Regions from separate parts of the Homo sapiens genome. Here regions 2 and 3 are each reported to be linked to region 1. Evidence: microRNA targets listed by miRTarBase, many of them from high-throughput screens and not tested one by one. Region 1 holds a microRNA gene; each other region holds the end of a gene's coding sequence.
What was found. Region 1 holds the annotated microRNA hsa-miR-3927-5p (GCCUAUCACAUAUCUGCCUGU, at 2,582-2,602, opposite strand). A microRNA usually pairs through its seed, bases 2 to 8, with sites in the 3' UTR of a target mRNA and lowers its output. Matches are read on the target gene's strand: a 7mer-m8 pairs with bases 2 to 8, a 7mer-A1 pairs with bases 2 to 7 and ends in A, and an 8mer does both.

Region 2: the mRNA of ASB7 is a reported target of hsa-miR-3927-5p. Seed matches in the 3' UTR shown: 7mer-A1 at 2,399-2,405 and 7mer-A1 at 2,609-2,615.
Region 3: the mRNA of SNX16 is a reported target of hsa-miR-3927-5p. Seed matches in the 3' UTR shown: 7mer-A1 at 433-439.

What each region holds. Positions count from the first base shown.
Region 1 is chr9:109,508,937-109,513,083 of GRCh38, forward strand. MIR3927 (microRNA 3927) reads right to left here and starts at 2,609; the gene lies at 2,539-2,609. It also overlaps a transcript of PTPN3 not described here.
Region 2 is chr15:100,647,835-100,651,981 of GRCh38, forward strand. ASB7 (ankyrin repeat and SOCS box containing 7) reads left to right here. Exons shown (of 6, transcript NM_198243.3): 6 at 489-3,867. The coding sequence ends at 628. Among named protein-coding and RNA genes, the nearest start is that of ASB7, 47 kb to the left of the region's middle.
Region 3 is chr8:81,797,625-81,801,771 of GRCh38, reverse strand. SNX16 (sorting nexin 16) reads left to right here. Exons shown (of 8, transcript NM_152836.3): 8 at 179-2,189. The coding sequence ends at 275. Among named protein-coding and RNA genes, the nearest start is that of SNX16, 42 kb to the left of the region's middle.

The sequences.
Region 1 (4,147 bases):
TAATCCCAGTGCTTTGGGAGGTCGAGGTGGGAGGATTGCTTGAGGCCAGGAGTTTGAGACTAGCCTGGGTAACATAGTGAGACCCCATCTCTATTTATTTTTAAAGGAAGATCTACAGGTGAAGGGCACATTCTTTTGTTGTCCACCTGTATTGCTGAGTGAGCTAATTCCAAACCAGCTCTGGGGCCTATGACCTCCATATTTGAGCAGAAGAATTAAAAAGTCTGTAAAATCCCTCATTGAAATTATCAGGAAATAAAGGGAAGCTAAAACCCTCTTAGTGTCTCATGGTTTTGATTTCATTGCAATCTAGAATTGTATATAGTGCAGTATCAATCATGGGAAGCTGCCCCAGTGTTGTCAGCCTCTGTGACAGTATTTTATTCTCACACTGTAGGGTAAATGCATTGAGGCAACCTTCATATTTCTCTCAATCCTGCGCAATCTGCAGTAACCAGCTTTCTTTGATTACCTAGATAGGCTCAGGGGCCTCTCCCTCTGCATTATCTACTAGATTCTCACTTTAACACATTATATACAGTTGTTTAAGTCTGCTACTCCAACTGTTAACTGTCTAACATCTTTTCTTATGCTGGGCTCCTGGATAGAATCTAGCACTTACTGAGAGTGTGATGAGTGAGTGAATTAGTTGACATTGGGTTGCCTTATTGATATGCCCGTCAGGCCAAGTTCCTTGACTTACTAAGGCCAGTGTATTATTTTCCATTACATTTAGTTCAGTGATATTTTAAAAATGTGCATAATACTAGCACATATTCAAATGCCAATTCACATGAGGGAATAATTTCCCAACAGTGTTATCTAGCTTCTTCTCAAGTTCCCTGGGTGGAGGTCAGTCTTTGTAGTTGATGTTGGGTTCCTGACCCAAACACAGCTTGTGCCAGTTATGGAAAGGAAAAAAAAAAAGGGCAGTTTTCCATGGTTTGGATAAAGAGGTGACCGTGGGAACATGTACAGCTCTGTCTGTAGTTCTGGTAAAGTCACTGAAAACGTAACCCAGCCCGGCTCTCTTTTGTACCCACAAGGAAATGGGGATAGACAAGGCCTGTCAAACAAGAGGAAATGGAGCAAAAGGAAATAGACCCATTCTGCAAAGCCATATGGCATATGCAGCAGAGGGAAGTGTTGGTCCCATTCAGGAGGGAAAATATCTCTTTAGCTATTTATTAGGAAACATTGAAGTAATCTTAAAAACTGTGCTATATAAAGAAAAGATATGAACCCCATCTATTCAATGGAAAAATCCAAATGCAGATAAAGGCTTATGAACAGAAATGAGTCATTATAGCACTGCTGATAATTGCCAAAAAATATGTAACAGCTGGGCGTGGTGGCTCACACTTGTAATCCTAGCACTTTGGGAGGCCAAGGCGGGCAGATCACCTGAGGTCGGGAATTCGAGACCAGCCTGACCAACATGGAGAAACCCTGTCTCTACTAAAACTACAAAATTAGCCAGGTGTGGTGGTGCATGCCTGTAATTCCAGCTACTCAGGAGGCTGAGGCAGGAGAATCCCTTGAACCCCGGAGGCAGAGGTTGCATTGAGCCGAGATTGCGCCATTGCACTCCAGCCTGGGCAACAAGAGCGAAACTTTGTCTTAAAAAAAAAAAAAAAAAAATATATATATATATATATATATATATATATATGAAACAAGCAACTGTATGATTATGAAATAGTATGTCTCACTGATTGTTATATAACTCAAAATTATTTTACGAGGAGATTGTAATCACGTGGGAAAATGCTAGCACTAGTGATAATGCTAGTGATTCAACTCCTGTTGAATCACTGCATTATTTTAAGATAGTGGTTCTCAAACTCCAGCATTCAAAGAGTGTAAGACAGAAAGCTGTATTGCTGGCCTAATTCTGTAAAGAAGAACACATTTATGAGCAAAAATGTGAAAGCAAATGTGCTAAAAGGTTTTTCTAGATAATGCTATGACTAGTGATTTTAATTTTCGTTTTTGTATTTTTAAAACTTCTACAACATATATGTGTTATTCCAAAAATCAAAAAGAAACATTAAAAAAATCCATGTAATCAATATCAAACACAAAACTTTAACTTTGCTCCCAGCAACAAATACATAAAATATTTAGGGGCATATTTTTATATCAAGGTGATTAAAGCACTGACCATGGGAATTTTATGACTATCCTATGGGAGGTTCAGCCATGGTGCTTAAGATACCCCTAGTGTCCTTCTCATCTCCTTTACACCAGCTCTGCTTGCAATCCTGCTGAGTCCTAAAATCCCCATGAGTAGGGGTGACTGTGAGCCATGGACGTGCTTAGCAAGACCAATTGGATTCCTTCACCTAGGAGTTTAAACTAGAGAACAGTGGGGAAGTGAGAAGATACACAAAGAGATGCCAGGTTCAAGGGGCAGCCACAGTAACTTTGACAGAATGCAGTGATCCCCAAAGAAGTGACTCTCTGGTGTCTACACTCCTGTGAATTCCCCTTTCATGCTGAGGCTGAGCATGGCCATAGGACTTCGTTTTGCCAGTGTGCCAATGCCTATCAAATATCTACCTGCCATGTTTGTCATAGGACAGGCAGATATGTGATAGGCATTGGCATATTGGGGTTGGCCCTCTTGGAAACCTGAAACCACCATGCCCTAAGAAGCCTGAGATGAACAACTTCATGGAGAGGGGCCCAGCCAGGCCAGGTTTATCTCAGTCGAACCCAGAGCAGACCTGTAGGAGAATCAACCAGCCAACACATTGCATCATGAGGACGGGAAAAATCATTGTCATTTTCAGCCACTAAGTTTTAGCAGTGTTTTGTTACCAGCAATGGATAACTGAGGCAGTCCCAATAGGAACTTTGGTTGAATCCCTGTATTATTTTAAGATAGTGGTTCTCAAACTCCAGCATTCAAAGAGCTGGGTCAAAATTCAAGTGTCTTTAGGGGAGAGACATTGTTGGCCTCATTTGCCTTTATATCCCAGTTCCTGGAATGGTGTTTATCACATACCTAGACCTGAAGAAATATTTGTAAATAAATGAACAAATGGATCTTGGGAGTTTGTTTAAAATATGCCCACCTCTGGAGATTTCTAATTTGGTAGGTCTAATTTGGTAGGGCGAGGTCCAGGAAACTGCATCTGAGTGATGCTGAGACAGGTGGCTTGCAGACCACATTTTTATCATCAGGGCCTCAAATTATCCTTGCAACCAAAAGAGGCAATTGACCAATCTTCCACCTGGCCGTGCATCAGAATTACCTGAGGAGCTTTTTAACGATATTCCTTCCAGATTCTCACCCCTGACCTACCAAATCTGAAAACCTCTGGAGGGGGAGACTCACACTCTACATTATTAAGAAGCTCCTGGGTGCAGCTGGTGCAGCTGGTCCACAGATTGGAGGGCATTTTTGCTGGCCTAACCAACACAAGTCTCCAAAAGCCATCTGGCAGCCAAACACACTTTTCTCACTCCTGAGAAGAACACACACCTACTCAGTTAAACATTATCACACTAATCTTTAAAGCTTTTTAAAAGACAGCTTTCATTTTTACGTCAAGAAATGTTTGTTAGGGACTCCTAAATCTCAGTGTCTCATCTGTCAAACAAAATTTGGTAACACCTGCTTCCTGAATGCCATGAAGACTACATGAGGTAAGGTGTGTGACCACACATTGAAACCGGAAACACCAAGCACAGGATTTTTAAGACTTTAATCATAAGTATGACATAAAGGAGATTAAAATTGTTTATCTATTTTTAGGTAATTATTCAGGGTTCTTTAGGAGGTACCTTGTTCCTCCTTAATCAGGGAGAGACAGGCCTTTGGGACCTCCTACACAAAATGTTTCAGAGAAGGGAAACCGTGGACACATTTCTTATTCCTGCACATGGTGTTTAAAGCACTGTGTGCTCTGAACCCTGCATTACCTTGTTCTTTCCTTCCCCTGGTCCTTTTCCCTCCCTCCTCCTGCCCCTAAGTGTCAGCCCTTCCAAAACACTAATGCAGTAGGCTGGTTCACATCTTTGACTAGCCCTGGCTCAAGCTGTGTATTATATCTGAAATGTTCTTAATTCATTAATTATTATTGAAACAGGGTCTCACTCTGTTGCCCAGACTGGGGTGCAGTGGCACAAACACGGCTCA
Region 2 (4,147 bases), not on the chromosome of region 1:
CTGAAAGGGAGGCTCACAATAGGGGACATCTCTTTCAGTCCCCACACTTTTCAGATTGAGAAGCCAAGGCTCAGAGGAATGATTGGCTCACAGTGGCTCACCCAGCGTGAGAGAGACCTAGTCAGGACGAGAACCAGAATTTTCCTGATTTATAACAGAAAGGATATGAGGCTTAGAATCAAAACTGTTTTTGGTCTCAGTTGAAAGCCTTAATTGGTTGTCTGATATTAAGCAACTTGTTTACATCTGATACTCAGTTTTCTTATTGGTAAAATGGAGTTGAAAATATCCACCATCCCACGGTTGTGAAAAGGATCAAATAAGGCATCGCATGAAGGTCCTAGGACACTTTGAGTTGGTATCTTTCCGGTCCTTTGCATGTCAAGTCCATAGAGAGAACTTCCAGGGAAATGAACAGTTCTTTTCAAAAGTGCCTTAAATATTGTGCTTTGTGGCTTTGTAACATTTTCTTTTTTCTGTCTTTTTAGGACAGCCCAGAAACTTGCAGGACCTGTGCCGAATTAAAATTCGACAATGTATAGGCCTTCAAAACCTAAAGCTACTTGATGAACTACCAATTGCCAAGGTCATGAAAGACTACTTAAAACACAAATTTGATGATATCTGATATGCCAGAACTGTGAGCAAGATTAGGAGTTCTATTCTAGATACTTAAAAGGCTTTTTGCCTTGCACAAAGTATATCCTATGCAATTTCTGATTTGCTGTGAAATCAGAAAGCAGGTATACACTTTTGGGTTTTCTGTTTGTTTGGTTGGTTTTCATTGTAGGGGAGGGATTTTTTATATATATATAAAAACACACACCACATGCTTGAAGGTCTTAATTTGGTTTCTTGGTCCAAGTTTAAGAGGTCCAAGCTTTGTATACAATACTGCATTTAGAAAAATTGTCTTTTCTTAAATGACACAAGCAGGTTTAGAGTGGAGAATTTACCCTTTCCAAATTTATGGTTCCTTGGTAAGCACGGTATTCTAAACCAGCAGAGCACTTGTTAACGTTTGGAGGCACAGTTTCACCCAGGGCGACCCTGGGTTCTTTTGGAAAATGCCCTAAGAAATGTTTGAAGTAACGCTGTCACCTCATTCATTTTTAATGAGTACAAACTGGCCGTTTCAAACTGTTCTTTTTCCTAATTAATGTAGCTTTCGGATGACATAAATCCAGTATCTCTGCTTATGACATAAATCCAGTACCTCTGCTTTTCTTTTGCTGTGCTCTTGTTTTTAACTTATTTTTTTTTTAACAACTGTAGTACACTACCCTGAGACACTGCATCTCGATTTCTATCTCTAGTTAGAGTTGTACTTTTAAAAAAATTAACGGGAAAGAAAATAACTTTGTGAAGCCAGTGTATTCTGTTTTTAAAACTGTGCCTGCAGTGCAATACTCCTTCTGGTGTATTTTATCCATTATTTCACTTGCTGGTCGTCATTTCACAGCCAGCTTTGACATGCCCGTGAGGACAGGAGCCGCCGCTTCAGTTGTCACTGCAGAGCCATCGTATGTCAGTTGCAATTTCCATCTGAAGCTATGTCTTTGACTTCACTTTAAGCAGAAAATTTTGTACCCTGGTGGTCGAGTCTTCCCTTAAAAATTGTTAAATCATTTGGCTTTAATGGTTCAATAATTTGGGGTGGCTTCATGGTGTTTCTTTTCTTCCCAGTTTAAAAAAAAAACTTTTTAAGCGTAAAATCTTTAAGGGGTACACATTTATAAGTCTGGCTAATTTCTAATATGCTAATTAAACATTTCCCATTTTAAGGTTATATACAGTGAGGCTCTTCAGGACAATTATTTTCTGGGTTGATTGGGCATATGTTTGCCGTGTAAACACGGATATGATAAAGTGTCAGTAACAATGGAAAAGGTCCCAGAGGCATTAGGCATCTAAGAGGATGCCCTCAGAAACGTATTCTGGCTTGATTTGTGTTATTAACTTCAGAAGAACCTTTTCAAATGTCCCAGTATCGTTCTTAGTGCTTTGGGAAAAAATATTTAACACACTGTTAATAAATTTGTTATCAGAAGTTTACAAGACGAAGGGCTTCTCTCGTCTGAATTTCTAGATTTAAGTCATGAAGTGTAAAACTGTTTCACCCAGAAGTGTAACTAAGCAGAACTAGGAGTTTTCTCTGGCTTCACCTTTTTCAGAGCCAGCAGTGCTGTTTTCTCAAGCACAGCGTTTGCTCTTAGACTCTGATCTGCTTGTGCCTAAGCATTGCACAGGTTTCCGAAGACGGGCAGCTTCAGAGAAGAGGATTATTCGGGAGATTGCTGGTGTGGCCCATAGACTCTTTGGCATAGACTCTTTCGCAGGCAGCCACTCTGAGTGTGGCCAGTTCTATAACCATCCCCAAACTAGCTGGAGCCTGATGGATAGGAACGGGTAGTCTGTCCTCTTCCCCATAAAAATGTTCCAAAAAGTTATCTCCAGAGAGAGTCCCTTATGAAGACAGTTGCCAAGCTGTATTCTCATTCTTTAAACCAATACCCAGGTCAGGGCTAGTTCACACTAGCACTGTTAGGGACATGGTGTGGCTAGAAATGAATTGAGTGTGACTTCTCCCTACAACCCCAGGCCCAGGGATAGGAGGAGGCAGAGGGGTGCCTGGAGTTTCTGCACTCTCATCAGTGATGTTCATGTTACACTTGCACAAGGGCTGATTTCCACGTATGTGTGTGTTAATTTATTCACTTAGTTTCAAAAGATTTTCTCTCCCCAGCCATTCAGAGGTTTCCAAACTAAGCCACTGAGTTTGAGTCAGGGAATTCCACGTAAAAAGATCAGATTAAGGTAAATTCTTTGTTCTGTATTGCTGCTGTGACTTCAGAAAAAAAAAATTATGAGAGCTCTTCCTGGAATTTTGAAATTTCTATTTAATGAAGAAGTGTATAATTCCATTATTTATTGTTTGAGGTTTGATTTATCTGGAAGCTTAAAAAGAATGTTTTATTTTTGTTGTTAATAAAATCCCAATCACATTTCACAATAACTAAAATGTCTCCAGGTGGGTTACTGGTAGATGATAGTGGTGACACCTGCAGGTCTGCATTTGAATTGGATTCACAGAGAAGCATTCCATGGTCACATAATGAATAGGGAGAACAGATATTTTCAGAAAAATCAACCGATTGTTTTTTCCAGAAACAGAACAGAAAATGTTCAGAATATTTTCAAATTTGTCAGATTCTTTTATGTTTCCTTTGAAATTTATTATTTAAGCCTATTACTAAACCTTTATAAAAATATATTTGGCAAATACACCAAAGAAACCAGCTTACAAAAGATTATGATCATTAATGAACTGCAAACCTCATCTTTCGAAAACAAGGTTTTGTGTTTTTTTTTTTTTGTAAATATTTGTGTTTATAAATGTACAGCAGAGTAAGAGTGTTTTTTAGATTATTTAATTCCCATATTTCTAAACTATTTACTACACAGTAATCCATGCCTGTTAGTTTGGAGGACTTGACTGTCTCATTTTTTAATTCATTGTCAGTCATGCTTGGAACAGCATTTCCACTAGAGAATCCAGCGTTCTGGCAGTAGCAAGAGTACACATCTGGAGCATGAGGGACTCTAGCATGACTCGTCAGATGCACACCCCAAGAGACAAGAATGTGTAGTTTAATGACCGGCGTGGACCATACGAAATTGAGATTCTAACTTTCCTGCAGGAGTGCTCATGAGCCCAGAATGTGATTGGGATAAGGCCATTTGCCCACAAATTTAGCTTTCATGTAACTCCTAGTGTGTTATATCATAATGTATTTTGTTCTTCCTTTTTAATGTAAGTTTTGCTTTGGGTCAATTTGAATTAAAAAAATCAAATCTGATTTAAAACATGTTGGAGTTGTATTTTATTTCCAGTCTACCTTAAGTTTTTAATATGTCCAGCTATTTGGTGAAAATAAATAAAACTCTATCCTTCCTTCATCAGCATTTTAGATCGCTGGGAGTTGTTTAAGAATATGATGATGTGGAAAACAATACCACTCTCCATTGTCACCAGATAAGCCATTTCTTACCCTCCTTTAATTTGTTCAATGCATTCTGCAAATACCCACCAACAAAAGATGATCACAGTGTTGAGTGTATCGACCCAGCACTGGGCCTTCTTGGG
Region 3 (4,147 bases), not on the chromosome of region 1:
AACTTAAATATATCAAATTTCTGATTGAATGTTTAAATACTCTTACATTAAATACTTTTACACTAAGTATGTAAATTTTCTATAAGGTAGAAGATTTTTAAAGGTAATAGTGAAAATGAAATAATAGCATGCATCCAGTCCCATCATTGATATGTTCCTTTTTTTTTTTTTTTTGCAGAGCTGATAATAAACCATGCTTAAGTTTTAGTGAACCTGAAAATGCTGTATCAGAGATAGAAGTAGCAGAAGTGGCATATGATGCTGAAGAAGACTAATGTATCACAAGCAGTTCCCTCCATTTAGACTATTCAAAAATTTAGAAGAGTGGCAAATACTATTTTAAAAGAAGAACCAAGAACTGTAAAACATATAGAAAAGAGCAAGAATGCACATGTATAAAGTTTACATAAAGAAGTTTTTTTAAGTTATTGAGATAGGAAATATATTCACTGCTGCTTTTAATTGTATTTTATCCAATTACATTTAATACACTAAAAAAAATCTTGTTGGAATTCTGTTATCAAGGCCCACATTCTTAAATACTGTGCATAAATTATTATGGTGTTTTGCCTATATATTGCTCCAAACTACTGTGTATATATGTATGTGTGTTAAATCACCAATTATATTAATCAAATGGAAATTAATTGCATGTTACTATCTGGGTGATATATTCTTCTTTATATCTCTGACATGACATATTTTCATTAATAGTTTAAATCAGTGACCATCATAATAAAGATAAAATTTAGTTGAGTTTTTAATGTTTACATGTTTACATCTCTAAATAAAATTTGCTTATTTGAAATGTTAATGCTCTTTAGAAAAATGACTTTCTAGTACCAAAGGAAAACTACTTGAAAGAGCTGTAATCATATAGCTAAAGTGATAAGATAGCCTTGATTTTAAAAGCTGATTCATTAATATCAAAATACTTTAATAAGTGTCACAGTTATTAATATGTTACATTTGTTTAGTTTCCACGTAATCTTTATCTCTACCTAGATTTAGTGAGTTTGCCTCTTTCAGAATACTACCTCCTTTTGTTAAGGCATATTCTTTCGAAAATATAGATTCTAAATAAATAGGGGCTTATACAAAAAAGAAAATAAAAAGCCATATATACTGCAAAGTTCCTAACTGGCTTGACTCCTGACATTGCATTTTTATTTCTATTTGTGTGAAGATGTTGTTATACTGTATTATGGCTGATTTTCTTTTTAATATATTTAGCCAAGTGATGCACTTTATGATAATTAAACTCTTTTGTGCCAAGTTTAATTGGTGGATTTTTTTAGTAAGTAGAGTTAGGAGAAAGAATTATGTAGTGCCTTTACTATTTCACTTTCTACAAAAGTCTCCTAGGGTCTTTGAGTCAGCTTTATGAAAAAATGTTTGTTTATTTCAGCTTTGTGTACAGTCATTAAAAGTGCCTTGTTTCATTTTTATAGGATGAAGTTATTTATTTTCTATTTTCACTGTTTTGCATATTGCTGTTAATAAGCATTGTAATCATGCTGGCATTTTGCAATCCCAGTCGGTATGCTTTCTAAAAACTGAGGGAAACTTACTGGGGAAATAGAATAACAATCTCCATTTTTTTCTTTACTATCTAAAAGTTTATCGGTATCTTGATGTATATATATATTAAGGTGTGGCTGTTTAAAATTCTAATGACATATATCAACACATTCAATGGCTGTTGTTAACCTTTGAAGTAAAAAGGAGATCACTTTTTACCAAATAACCAAAAATTTTTAGTCTGTCAAAGTGCACAGGTATGTTCTCAGAACATTTTTCACAATGTGTATCAGAAATATGTTTGCTATCCTTAGAGACAGAAATGAATATAATAAATTGATCTGCTTATTTATTAAAATTATTATTCTAGACTTACAAAAGGCTTAAAAAGAACAATCATTTAATCAGTACCATTCTGTATCTTATATAACAGATCTTTGCCAAATTCTAGATATTATAGTGTTGCCTGTCTGTTCTAAAGCGAACCAGCCACTTTTTCAATCTGGCTTTTTGGAAGATTGTATTTAAAGTTCTTCAAGGATGAAGAAAAAAATCTGTTAATTAGGTAAACCACTATTATTTATATTTATAATTTACTTTTTTTTACTTTTATAATGCATTTTACTCCCAGTATTATGTTCATTTAATAAATTATTTTTTCACTACAACAGTAGCTGTGTTGTTCATATGTTGAATACCATTTTCCCCCTCCATTTTCTATATTCTCCCTATCTTTTACAATTATTGTAAATTGAATTATATTTAAGTGCTGAATTTCACAGATGTAGAATGAGTCTGATTTTCTTTTTAGGTTTACACTTTATATTGCTGATCATTTTTTGAAAGTCTTTGTGAATAGGTGCAATGCACTTTAACATAACCTATACTAATAATTCTAAAAATTGAATGTAACTGAAATAACATTTTTGTGGATAATCTTTTAACCTTTTAGAAATAAGTTTACATATAGTTAGTACAACCATAAAACAGCATTTTAAAATGTATCTACTACATCGAGATTAGCCATTTACAGCACATTTATTTAGAAAACCATGCTTAGATAAATTATCTATGTAGTCTAGTTCAGTCTGTGATATTAAAAGGGAACAGTGGCTTTAGATATAAAAATAATTTGGTTTTGAAATGGATTTTATTACTTATAGGAACACATGAGTTTGGGGATTATGATAAAACAAGTCTGTTTTCCCAACTAGCAGAAGAATCTAAATTTTATCCTCTAGGAAATCTTCAGAGAGCTACATATTTGATCCACATTTTGGCTCTTCATAGAATTACTGTTACTGCATTATGCTTTGTTTCTATGCTGTTGGCTCCTAATAGCAAACACAGTCATCAAAACATATATTTTCAATACATGTGTTTTTAAGGCTAATGGCTACTATTAAATATATCACATAGTGTACCTTTTATGAAGACCCATAGGAGAAACTTCTCTTGGGTCTTGATCTCAGCAAAACATGTGCTTCTCCTAAACAGTTGAGTTTCAGGGGAGGGTTGTGTGGTTTTTGTTTTGTTTGTTTGTTTGTTTTGGGACAAAGTCGCTCTGTCACCCAGGCTGGAGTGCAGTGGCGCAATTTCGGCTCACTGCAGCCTCCGCCTCCCGGGTTCAAGCAATTCTGTCTCAGCCTCCCGAGTCGCTGGGACTACAGGTGCACATCACCACACCAGGCTAATTTTTGTATTTTTAATAGAGACAGGCTTTCACCATATTGGTCAGGCTAGTCTTAAACTCCTGACCTCAGGTGATCCACCCGCCTCAGCCTCCTAAAGTGCTGGGATTACAGGTGTGAGCCATTGTGACCAGCCTAATTTGTTTTTCTCTCTTTTTTCTATTTAGTGGTTTTCCCTAATTTTATTTTTATTATACTTTAAGATCTGGGATACACGTGCAGAACATCCAGGTTTGTTACATAGGTATACACGTGCCATGGTGGTTTGCTGCACCCATCAACCCGTCATCTACATTAGGTATTTCTCCTAATGCTATCCCTCCGCTAGCCTCCCACCCCCTGACAGGCCCCAGTGTGTCATGTTCCACTCCCTGTGTCCATGTGTTCTCATTGTTCAACTCCCACTTATGAGTGAGAACATGCAGTGTTTGGTTTTCTGTTCCTGTGTTAGTTTGCTGAGAATTATGGTTTCCAGCTTCATCCATGTCCCTGCAAAGAACATGAACTCATCCCTTTTTTATGGCTGCATAGTATTCCATGGTGTATATGTGCCACGTTTTCTTTATCCAGTCTATCCTTGATGGGCATTTGGGATTCGTTTTCATCTTAAAGAGTCTAATGCTCTCTTTGTTGCTCCTCTTTGTCTTTTGGGCAGCTCTAGGCCAAATTGTAGTTCACTTGTATGGTTATGCTTTTCTGTTGTAATCATGACTTTATTTTTTATCTTCTTCAATTTTTTTTCCTATTTAAGTCGTTCTATTAGAACATACGTATTTTGGGAGCCAGGTGCGGTGGCTCATGCCTGTAATCCCAACACTTTGGGAGGCCGAGCTGGGTGGATTGCTTGAGCTCAGGAGACCAGCTTGGGTAGCATGCATGGAGAAACCCCGTCCCTACAAAAAACTAGCCAGATGTTGTGGCCTGTGCCTGTAGTC